Homo sapiens: one gene and its partners. The protein of the gene in region 6 purifies or fractionates together with the protein of the main gene of each other region. This does not show direct contact. Each region holds a gene or a part of one and is shown on either strand. Other genes may lie near its edges. The genes, in order: PDK3, PDK2, PDHX, DMKN, RNASEH1 and FOXD4.

Region 1 (3,500 bases), on a different chromosome or scaffold from region 6:
TCTTGAAGAATGGACTGGATACCATGCAGTAGGTATGGAAGCTGGAAGTAGGTATGGAAGCTGGAAGTAGGTATGGAAACTGGAAGTAGGTATGGAAGCTTCCAGTAAGCTGGAAGATCTTAGCGAAATGGCATGGACCAACTATGAAGCAACCCAAAAAGGGTAGCATGATGTTGACCAGTTGGAGGAGTATAAAGAAACTCCATTTCATGTTAAGGCTGGGAACATTCTCCTCCAAGGGACACATGAATCATTGTTATTGCATTAATAGGGAAGAAAATGTCTAGGTACACTGTTGTGGTTGTTCTACAGTGATCAATATTTACATAGTTATAATGTCACCAACACTTGATTTTCTACTTTCTTGAAAGAACCTATAGGCAATTTACAGCATCCCTAATTTGGGTTACAGAACAGAATGTAAATATTACCAACCCAAAGACTACAGCAGAAGTAGTAAAGAGTGGCTGCCTCTGGGTTCAGACTGAAGGATAAGATAGGAAAGGGGGAAGGACTTTTGTTTTTCTTCTTTTGTTAAATTTTTAAGCCGTTTACATATATTACTAAGTGATTTTAAAAACAACTGCTCAGGCCAGGCACGGTGGCTCACGCCTGCAATCCCAGCACTTTGGGAGGCCGAGGTGGGCAAACACCTGAGGTCGGGAGTTCGAGACCAGCCTGTCCAACATGGCAAAACCCCGTCTCTACTAAAAATACAAAAATTAGCCAGGAGTGGCGGCGCACACCTGTAATCCCAGACACTCAGGAGGCCGAGGCAGGAGAATCGCTTGAACCCGGGAGGTGGAGGTTGCAGTGAGCCGAGATGGCGCCACTGCACTCCAGCCTGGGCAACAGAGTGAGACTCTGTCTCAAAAAATAAATAAATAAAAATAAAAATAATTGCTCTTTGAAGAGTTCGGGATTTAGACTCAAAAGCTCTTTGTTCAGGTGTCTGGTTTCGGTGCCACTTCTGGGACCACGGGCAAGTCACACAGGCTTCCCAAAGCCTGTTTCCAGACCTCTAAACACCACCACCCCTCTAGGAGCCAGGAAGTGTTGTCAGGAGGAGTCAATTGAATAATGTATGTGAAAGCTCTGTGTAGACTGCTAAGAATCAAGCAAATGTGAACTCTAATTTGTATTACTGTTAATTACTTTATTAGAGGAAGTAGCTGGTTGAAATTACAGCATTCTACCTGAGAGAGTTCATGTAGTTTCAATCTCTTAAGTGATTTTGGGTCATGAGGAGGAGGAAGGACTGTATTTTTGAGCATCTGCTCTGTACCGCACACTGTTCTTATTGCTTCACCTGGGTTTTGGTGTTTCTCAGATTGTCTTCAGATGACCCATGGTGCAAGGGGAAAAGATCATAGGTCTCTAGGGGTTTATGTGCTAGCTGCTTGAGAAAAAGTTATGTGAACCTTACATTCTATGCTATAAGATGCCTTGTTTGTCATAATTTAACAAAACTGAACACTGCCATTTAGTCCAGTTCACCAGCCCTTTTTTTTCCTGTTGCTCCACATTCTCCCGTGGAATTCCCCCTGGGGTCAGTGGCAGAAGGTAGCCCCCAATTTGAAAAACACCAAGTGATATCTGACTGGCCTTCTGTAATACTCAGGATGTTATGGCATAGGTGATAATATTCCAATTCTGCTCAACAAAGTTTCAAAGAGATTGAGTGATTTATCCAAGGTCACATAGCTGGTAAGTGAAGGAACTGGGTGTCACCCCAGGTTTGTTTGATTCTAAAGCATATGCTTTTGCTCAGCCCTGCCTTTAGAGGTGGAAACTCAAATTAGCCTTTTATAGAGCTCTGTTTTACACACTTGGAAAATAGAATGCAAACATCATTCTTGAATTTCTCCTACTTTGGGTCCTTATTGATTGATGGTTTTGTCTCTGTTTTCAGCCAAAGCGCCAGACAAACCTATTCAGGTGGTTTATGTGCCCTCACATCTGTTTCATATGCTATTTGAGTTGTTCAAGGTAAGTGGAATTTTAAAAACGTGGAAAGAAGTCTTCATTTTAAATTACTTTGATTCAGGGCATAATGGATTCATTAGATTAGCATAAGAAAAAGGTTTTGCATAACCATTTTAAAAATTCTATTTCTGATATCCTGTGGGTTTTATAATTTGTACACTGTGAGATGAGAAATTGCTGTGTACACTATAGTTTTTGTGAATATTAGTACATATTGATTTTGAAGCTTAATTGCACTTTAGTGATTTTATGTAAAATCCATACTGTTTTTTCTTTAGTTATGAGATTAGAGATGCTTTTTAGTTTCCAAACCTGGCAAAGGCTTTACTGGTGATAGCCAGATCAAAATAAAAACATGTTTATACATATTTATGCTTCTGAAAATTAACCACACTGGTACATTAGTGGTTGTTCCAGTCCTGAGAGATCCTGCAACTCTTTTATAAAATATTTGAATCAATTCAGAAGATCCAAGAGAGGCAGAGGAGAAAGATGTAGATGAGCTGGACCAAAAGAACCACCCCTCCCCCCCACCAAATTCTTTAGAGTCTGCAACTTAAGCTGTTGCTTTTGTTAATCAGTAGCTAATGACATTTACAGTAGCAGTATTACAGGCACAAGGCATTTGAGCTAAAATTTCATTTCTTCCAATGCGTGAAACACTAAATTGAACACCTGAAAAATCAGTTATGCTGATTTGCTTCCAAAAATTAGAATGTTACTGATGTAACGCTTTAAGGTTGAAATGGGCATTCAATTGTGAACTTTCTCTTCAGCAGCTGTGGCTTTTTCAGAATTTCTTTTTAACCAATATTTCTTCTACTTTTTTCAGCCAAATGATTAATTTTTGTGGGAAGCATGCATCCTTTCAGTTTTTCTGCCTTCTTTAGAGAAAAGGTGCTCTATAAATGCAGACTGATAAATAGGATTTAAAGTGCACAAATCAGCCTCTGCATAGCCTCATTACATGCGATAAAAACATTCCTCTGGGTTGAGTTGAATAATTTAAATACCGTAAAGCGAAAAAAAAAAAAAAAGAGGAAGAAGAAGAAGGAAAGAAAAATAAATATTTAGCATGTTGGATGAGGCTAAAACTAGGTGAAAAACAAAGTGTCAGGAAATTTTTCCTTGATTTGAGCACGTTTAGCTAAGCTCTTTAGAGGGAAAAATGCCATAAAAATCCAACTAATATTTGCCCCAAAAAAGGGTTGTTGGGTATAAGTCATCTTGCGCTTCTTTCTCTTTAAAAATTGTGGTTTGTGATTCGGCAGTATGATTAATAAAAAGATCTTATTATTTTAGAACTCAATGAGAGCGACAGTTGAACTCTATGAAGACAGAAAAGAGGGCTACCCTGCTGTTAAAACCCTCGTTACTTTGGGTAAAGAAGACTTATCCATTAAGGTAACTGTTTTATGTGCATGTATACTTTAATTATCAGTTGTGATTTAATAGTATCTAGACATTGAAAAATCAGAGGGAAGGAAATTGACATTTATTGAGTGTCCTGTTTG
Region 2 (4,065 bases), on a different chromosome or scaffold from region 6:
CTTGAGTTCTTGAGTGAACTCTGCTGAGCCTTTCCCTCTGTTCCTGCTGCAGTGCGCAATAAACGTTTGGTCTTTGCCCCTCCAAAGCTCTTCGGGAAGGTACTGTGCCATCCTTGTGTGTATCTGAGTATTTTCCAACATCCAAAACAGTCTGTCTTGCAGCTTGGGTTATATAATGTATTTGAAAACTTACTTCTTGTTTCTGCTTCCCAAAAAGTTACCCCCAAATAAATACTGCCTAACAGTTACTGGAGTTCCAGGTCTGGGCTGCTGGCTAATGCTGACATCAGCCTGAATTGGGGTTTTGGCTGTGAAAACCATGCTTTCCTAGGTGGATCCTGTGTTTCCAGAGAAAGGTGGGTGGTAAGAAGAGGGCTAGACACAGAGACTAGGAGCTTGACCTCAGTCCTGCTCTGGCCTCAGATTCCCACGTGACCCTAGGCAACTCCAAGCGCTTGGGGCTTTGGTGTCTCCTGTCTGTCCCCACCCCACCCTCAAAGCTGCTAAAAGCTTGGAGATGCCATCCCTGAGCCCAGGGACACTGGCGATGGAGTGGGAGGTGCAGGGACTGAGCCAGGGGTCTCACCAGCTCTGCACCAGCTGCACGGAGGGTGTGCTCAGCACTCGGTCGGGAAGCAGGTTGATCTCTTTCATGATGTTGGCCAGGCGCACAGGCAGCTCCTGCCTGAGGAAGGTGAAGGAGGTTTTCTCACAGGCATTGCTGGATCCTGGCAGGAGAAAGAGGGGTGAGCCACAGAGCCACAGACTATGAAAGCCAAAGGATGTCTCGGCCAGGTCAGCTAAACCCTTCATTAACAGGGGGCTCAGAGAGCAAGTGACCTGCCCGGGGCACACAGCAAGGCTCCCCATCCCCTGCAGGGCTCAAACACCTACACCCCATGCCTAACACTTCAGGAGGTGTCATCCTCTCCTCATCCCCAGCTGAACCCTGCTTGCCTTTAACCACAGTGGACAGGGCCACTCCTGGGCCCATTTGGAGCTGCCTCTGGCCTCAGTCACCTCACTTCTCTTTCCTTCCCTCCCAGCACACTCACTTTGAGGGGCTGATTCCAGGGGACAAAGGAGCCTGGGAAACCCATCCCTACCTAGGACTGGGCTCTGGCTGAGGGGGGCTATGGCTAGACCACCACTGCAGGCTCCCAGTGTTGTCTCTGGCCAGCCCACCTCACCCAGCCTGGCCTGAATGCCCATGTGGGGCTGCTGTGTCTTAATGCCCATCCATGGGGCAAACGGGCCTGAGAACAGGAGTCCAAATGCCTCGGTCCTTGTCTGGTGTCAAGATGGAAAGGGTGGGGGACCGAATATGGCCTTGGCCCAGGGTCAGGGGCCCTGGGTTCCAGTCCATCAGGCTCTGCTTCCAACTCTGTCACCCAGGCCATGCCATCATCCTTTTGAAGGTCTCAGTTTCCCCCATAGTACTACAAGTTGACCAAACTCTACTGTGAGCCCCTCACAGCTGTGATGTTTCTGTAATTAGGGTGCAGTTTGTGGGGACAGCTGCTGGGGGCTAGGGGTGGGCCCAGGAGGCTTTCCTACATGGGGGAGGCTCAAGACTCAGGCAGGGCAGGGGTGCAGGCAGACAAGTCCTGAGGAACAGGTGCCTTATGTCTCGGCTGCCACCTCTCTGTTCCCGTCCCATCATTGACGCAGCTGCAACCCAAGCTAGGCACTATCAACTCAACTCTTGAGAGACTGCCCCCCACCCCCAGTCCCCAGCTGGCACCATGGAAATACCACATAGACAGACAGGGCCCACACAATGCCCATTTCAGCTGCCACGTTGGCACAGCCTCCCTCCTGCCCCAGGGCCACCCCCAGGTTGCTGGTAGTGGGCGATCCTGACCTAGCAGCCCTGGGGCAGCCAAGGGAGGTATAGGCGGCTTGACTCCACATCACGGTGCCTGGGGCCCCTGCCCAGCTGGGGAGAGGCTGCCAGGCCGGAACAGATTTGATCTTCAAGTGTCCTTGCCCACTGGGGCAGCTAGGGTCCAGCTCCTTCTGTGGGTGGATGTCTACCAGTCAGGGCACTGTCTCCCAATGGCATCTTCTGAAAGAGCCCCCTTCCCCAACTGCCCCTGGCTTAATCTCACCCTCTGCCCAGGGGTGTCTGACCCTTCATGCCCAGTCCAGGTCTCTCTACAGATGGCTGCACCTCTAAACCCTGCCTCCTCACTCCCACCAGCAGACCCCCGGTTTCCTCTGGTGGGAGGAGGGGCCCCTACTCCTCCAGTCATGAGGACAACTCCCATTAACCCTTTCGCGTCTGGATACCACCCTACTCCCTTCCTGCAGTAACATCACAGCTTCACTGCCCCTTACTCTTCAAGACCCTTCATGAGGCCCACGAAGAAACCTCGGGACCGTCCTTGTAAATGCCCCCCATTCCCATCAGCAGCCCCGTCGAGAGGCCCCGGCCGGTTCCTGCTTCCCCATTAACTCTTTCCTGCCTGTACCTTTCCAAACAACCCTTCTCTGTCACTCGGGGCCTTTCTTCTCCTCCGTCCCCCTAGCCCCCGGCTGCCCCTCCCAGCGCCCCGCCGGCCTCCGCTGCCAGCCGCCTCCCGCCCACTCCGTACCGAAGTCCAGAAACTGCTTCATGGACAGCGGGGACGGGGAGAACTTGCTGAAGTGCTCTATGTACTTGGGCGCCCCTGCCAGGGACGCATTCTTCAGCAGCGCCCACACCCAGCGCATGGCTGCGGCGGCCGCGACTTTGGTTGTGGTCCCCGCGCGGGCAGCGCTCGCGCACCTTTCGGCCCAGCGACGCGGTTCGGCCGCCTCCTCCCTACCCTTGCCCTGGCGGGCATTCCAACGCCCAGCCAATCGGCTCGTCATGGCGCCTCGACGTCGCCAATGGCCACTCACAAACAACTCCGGGCGAACCAATAGCCTTCCGCCCCGGCACGTGGCTTCCCCCGGGCCCGCCCCCTTAACCCACGCTTTGCCGGGGCGGCCTGTTGTTTTGGGGAGGCCGCGCCGAGTTCCCACCTCCCCTGTGTTCACTCCTCCCTTTCCTCCGCGGGGCGAAGCCCGGGTTAACCCCTTCCTTCCCAGAGCCCCGCCAGCCCTTTCGCTTCCTCTTCCACGCCTGCCTTTCCCTTGCTACCCCCTCGCATCTCCTTCACCTGCAGGCTCCTTTTAACCCTTCCTTTCCAGAGTTGTCTAGGTAGCTTTCAACCAATCCCTTTTCTCCAACTCAAAGGTACCTGTTTCACCTGTCATGATCGTTACCTATCCTCCCTTAACGGGTCTTGGGGATTCCCAGTCCGGATGACAGTGACCCAGACTGCGAATATTTGCAAAATTCGGAACCAGGGTGCAAGCCTATACGAATCCGTCCTGTATATATGCAGCCCACCCGCTTCCACAAAGATCCAAGCGGCTCAGGAAAAGGCGGAGTTTGCTTTTCCAACTGAAAAACATCCAGAGTAAAAACCATCACTACTAGTGGCGGTGGAGGCAGCAGCTATCGTCCATGCCAGTTAACACTTTCATTTTATTATACAGCTCATCTGACCGAACATAAAGCCTTGGACATCTAGCGCGACCACCTGAGAAAGCCACCTCCTTCGCACCGGGCTTCCTTAGAGCAAGATCCCAGGAGGTGAAGTGTCTCTGGGAGGCCCGGAGCCCGTCCTTCATCAGCGGCCCAGCTTCTCTTGGAGAAAATGTGACGCGCCCTCTTGTGGCCGAATGTGGTATCTCCCATCGTGGGTTTAGGGCCCGACCCGCCACTTTGATGCTTTCTTTGCTCGGTGACATTAGCCTAATACGTGTTAGGCTTTATGCTGGGAACAGGGAACACAGACAGGATCAAGAAATGGCCTTTTTCCTCGATGATTTCATTTCTAAGTTTCAGAGATAGCTACATAAGTAAATAATTAGCTATAACTGAATGTGATTGTAATACAGACCTCACAGAGCAAAGCTTCACATATGGAAGGGCCTCTTAGCTGGATGAATAATAAGCTATATGCCAGGCACTGTTTACAGGCATTATCTCATTTAATTCTCTATTTTATTATTCTTAGCCTCATTTCATAG
Region 3 (3,500 bases), on a different chromosome or scaffold from region 6:
TTTTTAAATGGCTTGTTAAACTGAGTTGGATAGTTGGATTAAGCATTTTCTTAACAATTAATACACCAGGGTGCTAATTATTTTAGAAGGCTCTTCTGTTAGGGTTTATAATTCATCATGTCATACCATACAACTTGTACTATATTAGCCTTTCTTCTATTGATTCATGTCAGCTGACACTAACATAAACCTTTTTGTGACAAGTTAATTAAATTACCATTCATTACCATCCAACTTAAATATAGTTATCTTGACAGTTATAGCAGAGCTGCCAAAAGAGAGAAACAAACTCTTCTAAACTTTATAATAATTAGTGAAAATTTCATATTAGTGAAATAAAAAGGATAGTTCTCATCTGTTTGGCTTCATAAGTCTTCTATTCTCTTTCCAAAGTTTTACATTTCCTATCAGTTACTTTCCTAATGTCATACTAATTTTAAATTCCGTCTTTTCTCCTGTAGAGCCCTTTTAAAGGTGTTCTAGAAAAACTACTAATCAACTTCAAGGTTTATTGAACTTTTGTGTTTTAACATTTAAAATACAATAGAAATGTTTATATTTTCTCACATTTTACTGCACAATACAAAACTGATTTAAATGCATTAAGAAACAACATTTTGTTTTTAAATAAACACTAACAAAATGTTTGGCAAGAGATAACACAATTTATTTAAATATATTCCGACTCAAGATGAAGGCAAGCGGTTTACCTAGAAAGGTTTACATATTTTAGCTATAGTTTTTCATTGAACCATTTTTTTGAAATGTCATTCTTTTCATTCATGCTTCTTTTATCCTCTTGCTTTAGAAGTTCACAGTGTTATATAAGTGAAAAACAAGACAGATAGAAACCACCCTAAACATATGGCTTTATGTACATAAAAAATTCAATAATGTTGCCATAACCCCTAATACAGTGTGATCCTTATTTATTTATTATCCAGAATAAACTTCTGTACCTATTAAATTCTTCAAGTATATCTAGAGCAGTGCTTGTAAAAGTGAGGTCCCACTGCTAAGTTAATGGCCATCTCTTTGAAGATCACTTCTACCTTCAACATAATTATGGTACAGTTCTAATAGTTTTTTTAATTTTACATGTATCATACATTCTCAAATATTCCAAAATGCTCAAATGAGCCAAACATATACTTTGATTTACATCTAGTTTAATATTCCCTTTATACAGCACCAGAGGTTAAAAATGGATCTGAGTAACCAAATATTCTCTTTCCTTTATTAGTTAGAGTTTATCATCATTTATTTCTATAACATTAAACCCAAATTGAAGATGAAGACACCCTGGGTCAAATGCTTTCACCTTAAATAAATAAACATTTCATCCACTTCATACTTAAATACCAAGTTGTTTTCCTATAACATATGTTTCTTGGTAACAACTACTGAATCAACTAAGCTGAACACCAACTTCTTATCTTTGAGGACTAGGCAAGTCGGATAGGATTCTCTAGGTTTGCTTTAAAACTTTTAAGAAACCTGGTTGCCAGTTCGTCATCAACCACTCGACTGTCACTTGACATTGTGACTGTTATGAGCTGGCGCTGCTGCAGTTTGGCATTTCCCTCTTCATCCTCAGTGAGCTTCAGCACAGGTCGGAACCTCCCAACCGCCAAAATGCAGGCCTGAGGAGGGTTAATCACTGCAGTAAATTCGTCGATGCCAAACATCCCCAAGTTGGAAATACTAGGGGGAAAAGAAAAAGCTCTGAAGGAGGCATGTCCTTAATCAAAGTCCCCTTTCCGTGAAGCACATATTTTATATATTTTACTAGGCAGTGTAGTAAGGCAAGAAAAAAATATATGAGTAATGAAAAAAGGAAACATTTAGTATTTACAAATAAATTAATTGTGTACACAGGAAAAATGAGACTATAGATAACTAGTAAAATTAATAAGTAAATTTAGTTAAGTCATCAGATAAAAGGTCAATATAACAATCCATTTTATATCGAGTCATGTCCCACATAACGAAGGATCACATATACAACGGTGGTCTTATAAGATTATAATGGAGCTCAGGAATTTCTGCTGCCTAGTGGCATCATAGCTGTCATAACATCATATTGCAATTACTTTATTTTAAAAATAAATTTAGTGTAGCCTAAGTGTGCAGTGTTTATAAAGTCTACAGTAGTGTATAGTGATGTCCTAAGCATTCACTCATTCACTGATTCTTCCAGAGCAACTTCTAGTCTTGCAAGCTCCATTCACGGTAAGTGCCCTAAACAGGTGTACCATGTTTTACTTTTTACATTTTTACTGTACATTTTAAAAATGCTTAGATATGTTTAGATACCCAAATACTCATCATTGTGTCACAACTGCTTACGGTATTCAGTAGAGTAACATGCTGTATAGGTTTGCAGTCTAGGAGCAACTGGCTATATCATACAGCTAAGGTGTGTAGCAGCATGTACCATTTAGGTTTGTGTAAGTACACTCTATGATGTTTGCATGATTTGCGTAAGTACACTCTATGATGTTTGCATGATGAAACTGCCTAACAATGCATTTCTCATATCCCCATCATAAAGTGGCACATGACTCTACATACAAGTTGCTATAATTAGAAAATAAAAATTTAAAACAATACCATTTATAATAGTATCAAAAAACAAATACCAAAGAATAAATCTAATGAAACATATACAAGACCTCTACACAGAAAATTATAAAACATAACTGAAAGAAATCAAATAACTGAATACACAATGGTTTCTACCATATTCACAGGTTAGAATACTCAATACTGTAAGGATGTCAATTCTCAAATCATCAAAAGACTTAATGCAATCCCAATCAAGAAACCAGCAAGGGGTGTGTGTGTGAAAAATGGCAAATCAATTTTACAATTTATTTGGAAATACGAAAAGCCAGAAGACAATCTTGAGGGTGAACAAAATTGGAAGACTTCATTACCAGCTATCAAGAGTTATAGCTTGGTGGTAGTAAACAAAGGATAGACAAACAGGCCAGTGGAAAAAAAATAGCACAGAACTAGACCAACACATATATAATCACCTTTTCAATGCTATGAAAAAGGAGAAATCAATATTCAATACATGATGCTGTGTAAATTTAGTATCCATATGGGGAAAAAAGAGCACTTGAAACTTCACATTATATACAAAATCCAATTTCAGTTGAATTGTGATCTACATGTGAAAAGTAACGTAAATGCTTTTAGAAGATAACACAGAAGAGTAACTTCATGACTCTGAGATAGGCAAAAATTCCTAACAGAAAATGAACAGTACCAACTACAAAGAAAAATACTGATAAATAGGAATTCATTAAAACTCAGAACTTCCGTTCATTTAAAAAAATCACCGAGAGAGTCCCAAAGGCAAGTCACAGAGTGTGAAAGCTATTTGAAACAATATATATCCTATAAAGGTCTGTATATCCAGAAATAAGAACTATACATCATTTTTTTAAATGGACACCAGATTGCAGTGGGTACTTTATCTCATGAATTAC
Region 4 (3,500 bases), on a different chromosome or scaffold from region 6:
GTCACTGAGCTTTGAGGTAGAAGATGAGGTTTCGAAAGCCAGCTCTGGCCAGGCACCAGCATAACTGTAATCCCAGCACTTTGGGAGGCTGAGGTGTGGGGATCATTTGAGCCCAGAAGTTTGAGACCAGCCTGAGCAACGTAGGAAGACCCTGTCTCTACTTTTTAAAAAGAAAATAATAGGCCATGTGCAGTGGCTCACACCTGTAATCCCAGGTAGCTAGGATTACATGCCTCAGCCTCCCAAGTAGCTGGGATTACAGGCATGTGCCACCATGCCTGACTAATTTTGTATTTTTAGTAGAGATGGGGTTTCACTATGTTGGCCAGGCTGTTTTCAAACTCCTGACCTCAGGTGATCCACCCACCTCGGCCTCTCAAAGTGCTGGGATTACAGGCGTGACCCACGATGCCCAGCCTCAAAAAAATTTAAGATATATATTAAAATCACCACCAGCTCTATCATGTCATCTGTATATCTTCAGGCAAGTCAGCTAACCTCTCCGAGCCTGAGCTTCCTCCAGTAAAATGAGGACAGTGAAACCTGACTCACGCAGCCTTCAGTTACTGTACAGCTTTCCATGTCACCACCAGACCAAGGTGTTGTGGAGTCCAGACTCTGGAGACAGATGCTGCATAAGGCATGGTGCTTGGCGTGCCGTGGGACTACACGTTAGCTAATCTCATTTGCTTGAGGTGTTTTGGGGACAGACCAGGATGGAGGCAAGAGTCTGAATATTGAGATTCAGGGGACTGGGTGGGGTTCCATGGGAGCAATCCATTCTAAGAAAGCTTTCCCAAGTGAACTTTTTGGTGCTGTGTAAGGAAGAGAAGGCAGCTTTATAGAGAGGAGGACAGGAAGCCTGGACCGAGGTGGGGATGAAGCAATCCGGGGCAGGTTGACAGGTGGCAGGCATGATAGGAAGCATAAGCCTTGGACATCGGTCCCCCTTTTCCCCACCCAGGGGCAAGGGTCGAGCTGGGGCAGTGGAGGAGGTGACGCTGTTGGTGGAGTCAATACTGTGGTGAGTGGAGGCAACACTCCACCTTGGGCTGGGACCATGGTGTCACACAATCCTCGCCTCCCCTCCTGCCACTCAGATCTCCCGACTCTGGCTCACAAAGTGGGTTCTTCTCTCATCCCATATCTCCTTGGTTCCATAGAACTCTGAGACGTCTCCTGGGATGTTTAACTTTGACACTTTCTGGAAGGTGAGTTCTGCGAGATGGCTCTGTTCACTCGCATTTGGAAAACCAACCCCTGCCCTTGGCCCCACAGTCTGGGGTCCTCTTTCTAAACCAACAGTCAGCAGTGGCCCTTGACCTCTCTCGGCCAATTACCTTATGACTCAATTTGGCCATTCTTCTTTTTGTTTCCTCCATAGAATTTTAAATCCAAGCTGGGTTTCATCAACTGGGATGCCATAAACAAGGTAAGGGCTGGACATCTTCGTCGGAGAGGGCTATAGGGAAGAAAGCTAAACCTCCGCTCTGTGAGCTGGGGAAACAGTGATGCTGGCCACTGAGGAAGCATTTAGGCCAGTGCTAAAAACAAAAACTAAACACACTGGGGGTGGAGGAGGGAGGACAGAGGAGACCTGAAAAGAGGGGGAGAATCTGGAGCAGCTGAGATTGAGGTTGAGCAGAGGGGACGGGCTTCTTTGCTGTTTCAGCATATAGACCCGAGCAGGTCCTGAACCTCACTTTCCCCTTTGAGATGGGGAAGGTTAAGGGGAGAGTAGATTGACTCCTAGAGGGCACATGGAATGAGGAGTGAGGTGGAGCTAAGAGGCCCCAAGAGGAAGGGCACCCAGAGAAAGGAACCAGCACTGGCCGAGAGCCTCAGGGGTGACAGGCATTAGTCTCTCCCGCACAAACAAAAACACAGCTGGGGCGCAGAACCCCTCCCTCCTTCCTCCCTGCCTACCCTTCCGTCTTGCAGGGGAACCCCTGGCCAGGCTGCTTTGATACCTGAGTAGCACAGGCACCTCTAGAGTAGAGGGGGCTGGAGTGGAAGGGAGGGGAGGAAGGACAGGTGGACAACCCATGCAGACACACCCCCGGCAGAAGCTGCGATTCGTGATTGGAGGATGGGTTTTTGAGACACTCTATTTTTTTTTTTTTTTAAGAATATGAATTAATTGTCAAAGTTTAAACATGGAGAGACTTCACATAATGATTTGGATTTCTGGTTTCTTTCAAAAACTTTGGTAACACTGGGTTCCATTTCCATGGGGTGGGGTTAGGCTAGAGCTGAGAAACAGCTGCTGCTTGGCCCAGGTGGGGGGTGTTGGGAATGGGTGGGGGGGTCACTCCCTAGTGGCCAGACTGTCCCTACCTGTCACAGTCATTTTAGCCACCTGACTGGCCCCTGTGAGCAGTGGAGTTTCTGGCCTTTAATGTAAAAGAGAGAAGACTGGGCTCAGGAAAATCTAAGTCTGACCTTTTAGGAAGGAGATTGAGGAGACAGGAGAGTACAGATGTTCCCACCCAGCTACAGTGGATTCATGTTCTCTGTTTCTTTTCTTTTTTCTTTTTCTTTCTTTCTTTCTTTTGTTTTTTTTTTTTTTGGTGAGACGGAGTCTCGCTCTGTCACCCAGGTTGGAGTGTAGTGGTTCGATCTCAGCTCAATGCAGCCTCTGCCTCCTGGGTTCAAAATGATTCTCCTGCCTCAGCCGCTCCAGTAGCTGAGTTTACAGGTGCCCGCCACCACACCCGGGTAATGTTTGTATTTTTAGTAGAGATGGGCTTTCACTATGTTGGCCAGGCTGGTCTCGAACTCCTGACCTCCAGTGATCTGCCCACCTTGGCTTCCCAAAATGTTGGGATTACAGGCATGAGTCACTGCATCTGGCCTCTCTGTTTCACAGAGAACGGTTTCTGGTAGGAGCAAGACTCTTTCCTGGGTCACAGGGAACTTAGGGTCTGATGGGAGAGCCGGGGCACATACAGACACTTCCCAGAGAGCCAGGATAGACACCCTGCCAGTTTTGCCCATCTAGGGCGGCAGTCGAGGGAGTGATCGCAGTGAGGCAGGATCCATCTGGGCCAGCTCCTCAAGGGGCAGATCTCCTAGAAAGCAGGGCAGGGCAGAGGTGGGCAGGGGAGAGAATGGAGCCCCATTCTTCACAGTGGGGTGAGGGAGCTGAGGACTTCAGCCAGAGTGAGGAGGGAGCAGAGGGGAACGCAGTGTAATGTTCCTGACGATGCAGGGGGTTCTTAAGCCCAAGCCAGGATATCTGGGTTTGTTTGGATAGCAGTGGTGGGCAAAAAGGTCCCTGTAGGTTTCTGGAGCAGGGGTCTCTTATACCCTTGTGCTGGCTCACAATGCCCTGGAATTCCTATTTCTCAAGCTCTCTCTTAGAACCTATTTCTGGCCAGGCGCGGTGGCTCATGCCTGTAATCCTAGCACTTTGGGAGGCCGAGGCTGGCAGATCACTTGAGGTCAGGAGTCTGAAACCAGCCTGGCCAATGTGGTGAAACCCCATCTCTACTAAAAAT
Region 5 (3,500 bases), on a different chromosome or scaffold from region 6:
AAAAAAAAAGAAAAAAAGAGCACACACCTGCCATATGACCAAGCATTCCATTCCAAGGCATTTACCCAAGAGAAACAGAAGACAAAGACGAGGATATAAATGTTCACGGCAGCTTTATTTGCTTTATTTTTATTTAGAAATTGGAAATAATCGAAATATCGGTCAACAGGTAAATAAATAAACTGTGGTATATCCATGCAATACAAAATGTGGATTATTGATGTACACAAAATGGGTGAATGCCAAAATAATTATGCTGAGTAGAAGCACCTCCCCCCACAGTACTTGCTCTGCGATTCCACTCAGATAAAATTCTAGAATATATAAATTAACCTTTAGTGAGAGGGAGCAGACCAGTGGTTGCCTGAACATGGAGGACACGAGGGACGGTTTAGACCGGGGTGTGAAACTGCTGTTGGTGGTGATGGACATGTTCTGGCGACAGCTTCACAGGCAAATGCATCGGTCACTTCACGTATGTGCAGTTCATTACCTGTCAGTTACACCTCAACAGAGCTGTTTTAAAAAGCAAGGTGGGGCCGGCTTTGGTGGCTCACACCTGTAATCCCAGCACTTTGGGAGGCCAAGGAAGGAGGATCGCTTGAGGCCAGGAGTTTAAGACCAGCCTGGGCAACACAGTGAGACACTGTTCCTATTTTAAATAACAAAACAAAACAAAAGTGGTACAATAACAACTTTTAAAACTCAAAAAGAAACAAAGAAAGAGATAAAAGAGATTCAAGAGACAGTGGCAAACACTGAGAACAGCCAATTTAGATTTCAACATACAGATAACAGGGATCCCCACAGAAAAAAGCCAAAGCAAGAAAAATGTAACACTAAACTCCAGTTCAAGCAAATCTTCTTAAAATAACAGATATGAAGTACACATAGAAAGAGCACACCATACGCTTGCAAATATGGACCAGGACAACCAATACCAACACATGACACATTCGAATAAAACGGCCGACTTGACAGAAAAAGGAAAAAATCCTTTGGGCATCTAAGGAAAAACAGCATATGACTGTCAGGGGAAGAAAACAAGATTCATCAGGCTTTTCATGCATCACTTTATGCTGGAAGAAAACAGAATAAAACAAGATACTCAAAGAAAATCTGGGCCAAGAATTTCGTATCCAGCAAAACTGAATTCAACATCAGAAACTCAAGGAATACTGTCCCCAAGATGACACTGACTATAGACTGGTTATGAGACCTGAACACACAGAAATGAGTCAATGGTGGTAAAAAGGAGCAATTTTTCTGACAACGTAGACACAGTGCTGTTTTCATCATCACAATTAATGCTATGGTATTAGTATTTTTTTTAAATGCTAAATGCTAAAGAGGAATAAAACAAGTGAGTGATTAAGGGATGGATATTCCATGCCATTGTCCTGTGTCTTGAGAAGCAGGATTCCGAGTGCAGGAGACACAGACATCATATAGAGGAGGCTATGTAAAGGCCCCAGGACCCTGAATTTGTATTGGGAATATCAATATAGGCTCAGAAAATATTCTTCCTTTAAATATGTGTGTGCAATGTTTGTATTTTTTTAAAGCTCCGTCCAAAAATCTAGAAATAATGACCAACGCAATAGCAATGAGCATCCTAAACTGGATCTGAAATACCATCTCTACCAGAGACTCTGGGAAAAATAATGGATTCCAAGTGTTAAACGGAATTAAGTTTGGCCTAAAACTGCCTCTGTACATAGTGACTTATAACCTCACTTAATGTATAAGCAAACTGGGACCTGACTTGAGAGTACACTTCTGTAACAAGCAGCAGAGTCTCACCAATCACATGCTGAAGGCTCCCAAAACATGCCTATGTGAGGTGGAGGCTGACCTGCAGTCAGTCTGGCCATGTACATGTGTCTTTCCCTTCCTGTGGCTATAAATAAATACAGCCTGCACACAACGCACAGGAGAACGTTCTGAACCACTTTTGGTCCTGAGTGCTACCCAGCTGAAGAAACTATTTTCTGCTCAATTAAACTGCTAACTTGTCTAAAGTTTTTCTTTTAAGACAGGTTTGGAGCAGAAGCTCTATAAATTGGGCCTAGAGCATCTTGACATGCCAGGCTGCAGGGAGCTATCAATGACTGTGCGTGTGGTCTGTGCACACATGTATGCACACATGTGCACACTTATCAAAAGAAAGCAAGAGCCAAGCTGAAGAGGCTCCCTCTCACTGACCGAATAAGCTAGTCTGAGCTAAATAAAGATAAAAATCACAACGGATTGAAACCCACCAAGTATGCTTAACTCCACAAATTCTTTTTTTTTTTTAAGACAAGGACTTGCTGTCGCCCAGGCTGGAATGTGGTGGCATGGTCACAGCTCACGCATCCTCGACCTCCTGGGCCCAAGCGATCCTCCCATCTCAGCCTCCAGAATAGCTGGGACAACAGGCAGGCACTACCACACCCACCTGATTTTATTTTAATTTTCTGTAGAGACAGGGTGTCACTATGTTGCCCAGACTAGTCTCAAACTCCTGGGTTCATGTGATCCTCCAGCCTCAGCCTCCCAAAGTGCTGGGATTACAGGCATAAGACACCATGCCCAGCCCATGAATTCTTGTATATATGTAAAAACCCTTCACCACTCACCTTCCTTGACAGACAACTAATGCATTATCTTAAAAACTTAGTGTACAAGAGCAAAGAATCAAGCATTTATCCTGCCCTTCCTATATGAACTGTACCACTGGGTAACCAGATAAGTATAAAAAAGAAAACACTTTCTTAGAAAACCATTCCAGCTAATAAAGGCAAGCAAAACGACAGAATGAGAATACCACCATTTTGCAACCCCAAATAATTAATGGATCTTGGCACTGAGCATCAGCTGCCGTCAACATGGTACTTTCCTGAGGAAAGCTCCTAACCGCCTGTTCTCCTGCCAAAGGGATCAAATTTGAGGCTCATCAAGCCTCTGGACCCAGCTGCCAATGTGCAGGAAACATAGAGGACCATGCTGAACTACACCATGACCACGTGGTCAGCAAAATCTACACTGTGGGAAGCCATGGGACAAACAGCCCAGGCTCTTCAACAGATAAACGGCAGGGAAAACAGTGAGGCCGACGGGACTGCAAATGGACACTGAAGTAGATAAAAAAATAAACAAAAAAAAGCAGACAAGACTAAACTGCCATCAAAAAACCAAGAAAGTCATTTCTGTAAAAGTCAGGATTACTTGTTGGGGCAAGGAGGGGGAGAAGAAGAGGGCTGTGGCTGGAGGGGCACTTGGGAGAGCCTCCTGGGGTATCTGGCAAAGTACTATTTCTTCACCAGGTGGTGGACACAAAGGTTATTCACCTTACAATCATAATCATTCAATAAGCTATACATTTGTTTTGTGTCACTTCCTGTATGTTTTTATAATAAAAAGGTTTAAAACTAAATAAATAATCATGTCAAACTTTTACTACTTTTTTTTTTTTTTGAGACAGAGTCTCACTCTGTTGCCCAGGATGGAGTGCAGTG
Region 6 (3,886 bases):
GAGTAACACTTAAACCTTTCTAGTTGCAAAGTCTTTTCAGAGTTTTTTTTTTAGGAAATAAGTTTTGAAAATTCTAGTGCTTAAAAAATGTGTATATATATATATATATATATATATATATATATATATATATATATATATATATATGTATATTTATAGCCTTTTATTTTCCCTGAGTACATGTTGGCCACTACATTCCAAATTGATCTCAAATGGTTTTCCAGCTTGTTGGGGGGTGAGGAAAAATAAATGGAGAATATATTTACATGCCCTCCTATTCATTCTTTTAGAAGTCTCATAAATAGTAAATTTCCTATTTTAAAAGCCAGGACATTTTCAACCTCAAATATTTGGAATTTTTAAAGGCCATATTAAAATGGATTACTTCTGCTATCTATAATAAATATGAATTGTGAAAATAAATTGAGGGAAAATAATGTAGGTTTTAAAAAGTTCCATTTAGAAAGGGAAGAATGAGACGTAATAGAAAATAAACGATGTAGTGTAGTGACTTAGCATTTTATTTCGTCTATATAACTAGGCTTAATTTTAACACCTTAATTTTAACATTAAAGATGGCACGTCAGACACACAGATAAGAAATCAATGTTCTGAAATTAATATCCTACTTACATTAAACATCCCTATCAGGAAGACACAGAGAGTAGAAGCATTTTGCACTAGACTTAGGAATAATACTTCCAGTTCCAAGGAAGTGAAGAAGGGGGAACATGTTTGGCATCGGAGGCTGTGTTTTTGTTTGCTTGCTTGTTTTTCTTTTAATGCCAGAACAAAATACCCCACTCACGTTCATAGTACCCCAGGACATGTGCAAATCGGGAAAGCCACAGAAGCCACAACCGAAGGCAAGAAAAGATGACTTGACGCCCTGCGAAGGTTACGTTCAGGTGGTTTTTAGAGGAACGTAATCCAGCTGTTTCTTTCTAACCATTTTGCAGGGAACAGAAGTTCGTGTTTGCTCTCCAGCGGGATTCAGATGCACACGCCCAGTATGGGCCGCGCAAGGTGGAGTGAGCAGCTGCGGGTCGCTCCCCACTCCCACCTGGCTCTAGGAGGGCCCTGCGGACTCGGCCAGGGAACTGGGCGTGGGCGATACTAAAAAAACTGGTGAGGTCCCCTCTCCGCCCAAAGGGGCGGCCAGCGATGTCAGCCCAGAGCCCTCTGCCACCGCCTGATACCGCAGCAGCGCCGACGCGGCCGACAGGTGCCCGCCCAGCACCGCGCCCTTGGTGGGAGCGCAGCCGTTGGCGCAGTCCTCCTCCTGATGCCGCTGCTGTTGCTGCAAAATTGTCCGACAGGCTTGACGGTCGCTGGAGCAGGGGGCAGTAGCTCCACGCGGTCGGGGACAAACTCTGCGCAGCCCCTGTACCCGCTCCCCTGACCCCTTGCATGATACTCTCAATGCTGAAAGAGATGCATCCGCCTCCCGGTGGCGACGCCAGACCCTTGCCCTCCTCCCAAGGCTGAGGACCAAGTGAGGGCTGCAGCACGGGAAGGGTGCCGGGGTCGCCAGGTCCGCGCCTTCTGCTTTCTTCGGTGCCCCGGCATAGGCGGGGGCCGAGAGCAGTAGGTAGCGAGGAGGATGCGGGTGCAGCAGAGCGTAAGGGCGTCTCCCGGGGCCGGTGTTGGGGTAGGCCCCCGGGACTGGCTGCGGCGGGGCAGGGGCCCCAAGCAGAGGGCCTGGGCGGGGGTTGTGCAGGGCGGCGTGTGCAGCAGGTAGAGGGAAGGGGTGGGGCAGGTGGGCTCCCGGGGTCGGTTGGTGGCGCTGGAAACGCTTCCTACGCCGGAGAAAGCTGCCATTGTCGAACATGTCCTGGGAGGCGGGGTCCAGGCTCCAGTAGTTGCCCTTGCCTGGGCGGCCCGGCTCGCGGGGGATCTTGACGAAGCAGTCGTTCAGCGAGAGGTTGTGGCGGATGCTGTTCTGCCAGGCGGGGAACTTGCGGCGGTAGTAGGGGAAGCGGTCACTAATGAAGGCGCAGATGCCGCTGAGCGTGAGGCGCTTGTGCGGGCTTTGCAGGATGGCCATGGTGATGAGCGCGATGTACGAGGAGGGGGGCTTTGCCGGCTGCCGGGCATCTTCAGAGGCCGCCGCAGACCTTGGCGGTGCCCTGAACTCGGTGCCAAACTCTGAGGGGTCGCTCGGGCCGCCGCCGCCCTCGATGTGCTCTCGGGGAAGCGCAACCCCGCCCCACCGGGCCACCTGCAGCCCCGGCTGGAGCGACTGCTCTAGGAACTGCTGGCTCGCCGCCTCCTCCTCGTCTTCATCTTCCTCCTCTCCCAGGACATCGATTTTACCGTCTTCCCCATCGGAGTCCCGGAGGCTGCGCTGCGGTGTGGAGCGAAGGCGCTCAGCTCTTGGCAAGTTCATGGCGGAGCAGGTGCTTCAGTCGCAGGGGATGTGGCGGCCGGATCACCTGGCCCCGGCGGGCTGAGCTGGAAGCCCGGGATGAATGTTGCAAGAAGCAGGAACGCTAGTGGTTACCCTTTGGGATGTTTTCCTCTGCTTGTTTCTACGCCTTTGCAACAACGTCCGGCAAAGATGCCTTCGCCTTTTATAAAAGCTTCTTCAAGACCATGTGTGGTGGACGCCTCCCTTTATAACCCTTCTTCCCCTACCTCGGAGCGGTGCCACTTCCTCCTAACGTAGTCCAGGGATGATGGTCTTCTGGGCAAACACCGTCCGGAGAAAAGCCCAGCGCCCTCCTCCTCGCACCCACCTGCCACCAAGGAAGATGCTCTACTCATCCGGTGCAGCCAGACAGTAGGCAAGCCTTTGCACGGGTTCTGTTAAGGCGCATTTAAACCCGCGCAAATAAAAGCGAGGTAGGAAAGTAGGATACTCAACATTCTACGACCACCTCGACATGCAGCCTTCCCGCCTGGAGAAAAGAAATGGTGGGGTAGGAGGCTGAAATGTACACGGTTGTTTGTAAAGGAATGTGTAACCGTGAAAGTATGTTTTTGTGTTTCACAGCTGGTAATCACCCATTTTCATTGGTAGAGTCTGTCCTTACCCAGAATGGTGAGCTGAATTATATTTAAGGTTCTGACAATATTCCCAGGCTTCAGGGGGGTGTTGCTTTGCTCCTTCTACCTTCCTTCCCACCTCCCCAAGATGCTCTCCCTGACTCAAATTTTCAGAAAAGGTTCAAATGTCCCAGCACTAAATTGTGTAAGTTTATTCAGGGAAGGCAGGAGAGCTCACACGGAGTCCTCTGTCCCCTTGTAGCAATGGTTCTCCAATTTCTTTGAATATTTAACCACAGAAATACATTTTATATCACAATCTTACACATACAGACATAATACATAACTAAGATGGCTTTCACGAAACAATATACTTACACTATAGTGATCACTGATATTTCCTTTTAAAAAAAAATGGCCATAACCAACTAAATTGATTTCACACATACCAGTATGGGCCCAGTTTGAAAAATCCTGTTCTTACAAAGTGGCCCCACATACAAGAAATGCACCCACTCTATAAGGGCTTCTCTCTCTCCCTTTCCTCCTTCCTTTCTTCATCCTTTATAACCAATTCATTTTTAGAGACAGGGTCTATGTTGCGCAGGCTGGCTTTGAATTCCTGGGCTCAAGTGATCCTCCCGCCTCAGCCTCCTGAGTAGGTGGGACTACAGGCGTGCCACTATGCCTGGCTCTGGCTCTTCATTCTTTTTTTCCTTTTTTTTTTTTTTTTTTTGAGGCGGAGTCTCGCTCTGTCGCCCAGGCTGGAGTGCAGTGGCGGGATCTCGGCTCCCTGCAAGCTCCGCCTCCCGGGTTCACGCCATTCTCCTGCCTCAGCCTCCCAAGTAGCTGGGACCACAGGCGCCCGCCACCGCACCCGGCTAATTTTTTGTATTTT

Evidence for each region.
Region 1: the proteins of FOXD4 (region 6) and PDK3 purify together in Homo sapiens (affinity purification with mass spectrometry; 2 studies listed by BioGRID and IntAct, with this or other methods). This does not show direct contact.
Region 2: the proteins of FOXD4 (region 6) and PDK2 purify together in Homo sapiens (affinity purification with mass spectrometry; 2 studies listed by BioGRID and IntAct, with this or other methods). This does not show direct contact.
Region 3: the proteins of FOXD4 (region 6) and PDHX purify together in Homo sapiens (affinity purification with mass spectrometry; 2 studies listed by BioGRID and IntAct, with this or other methods). This does not show direct contact.
Region 4: the proteins of FOXD4 (region 6) and DMKN purify together in Homo sapiens (affinity purification with mass spectrometry; one large-scale study listed by BioGRID and IntAct). This does not show direct contact.
Region 5: the proteins of FOXD4 (region 6) and RNASEH1 purify together in Homo sapiens (affinity purification with mass spectrometry; one large-scale study listed by BioGRID and IntAct). This does not show direct contact.

The regions. Positions count from the first base shown.
Region 1 is NC_000023.11:24,524,286-24,527,785, forward strand, and holds part of PDK3 (pyruvate dehydrogenase kinase, isozyme 3 isoform 2 precursor), read left to right. Parts: intron 1-1,912; coding exon 1,913-1,989; intron 1,990-3,288; coding exon 3,289-3,390; intron 3,391-3,500. UniProt on the Homo sapiens protein: Inhibits pyruvate dehydrogenase activity by phosphorylation of the E1 subunit PDHA1, and thereby regulates glucose metabolism and aerobic respiration. Can also phosphorylate PDHA2.
Region 2 is NC_000017.11:50,094,086-50,098,150, reverse strand, and holds the start of PDK2 (pyruvate dehydrogenase kinase, isozyme 2 isoform 1 precursor), read right to left. Parts: upstream 2,801-4,065; 5' UTR 2,716-2,800; coding exon 2,598-2,715; intron 2,457-2,597; exon of another isoform or gene 2,341-2,456; intron 2,020-2,340; exon of another isoform or gene 1,865-2,019; intron 729-1,864; coding exon 587-728; intron 254-586; exon of another isoform or gene 1-253. UniProt on the Homo sapiens protein: Kinase that plays a key role in the regulation of glucose and fatty acid metabolism and homeostasis via phosphorylation of the pyruvate dehydrogenase subunits PDHA1 and PDHA2.
Region 3 is NC_000011.10:34,993,118-34,996,617, reverse strand, and holds the end of PDHX (pyruvate dehydrogenase protein X component, mitochondrial isoform 1 precursor), read right to left. Parts: intron 1,705-3,500; coding exon 1,446-1,704; 3' UTR 490-1,445; downstream 1-489.
Region 4 is NC_000019.10:35,503,650-35,507,149, reverse strand, and holds part of DMKN (dermokine isoform 2 precursor), read left to right. Parts: intron 1-964; coding exon of another isoform or gene 965-1,024; intron 1,025-1,163; coding exon 1,164-1,211; intron 1,212-1,384; coding exon 1,385-1,432; intron 1,433-3,500. UniProt on the Homo sapiens protein: May act as a soluble regulator of keratinocyte differentiation.
Region 5 is NC_000002.12:3,541,334-3,544,833, forward strand, and holds the end of RNASEH1 (ribonuclease H1 isoform 1 precursor), read right to left. Parts: 3' UTR 97-3,500; downstream 1-96. UniProt on the Homo sapiens protein: Endonuclease that specifically degrades the RNA of RNA-DNA hybrids.
Region 6 is NC_000009.12:115,731-119,616, forward strand, and holds FOXD4 (forkhead box protein D4), read right to left. Parts: upstream 2,688-3,886; 5' UTR 2,390-2,687; coding exon 1,070-2,389; 3' UTR 501-1,069; downstream 1-500.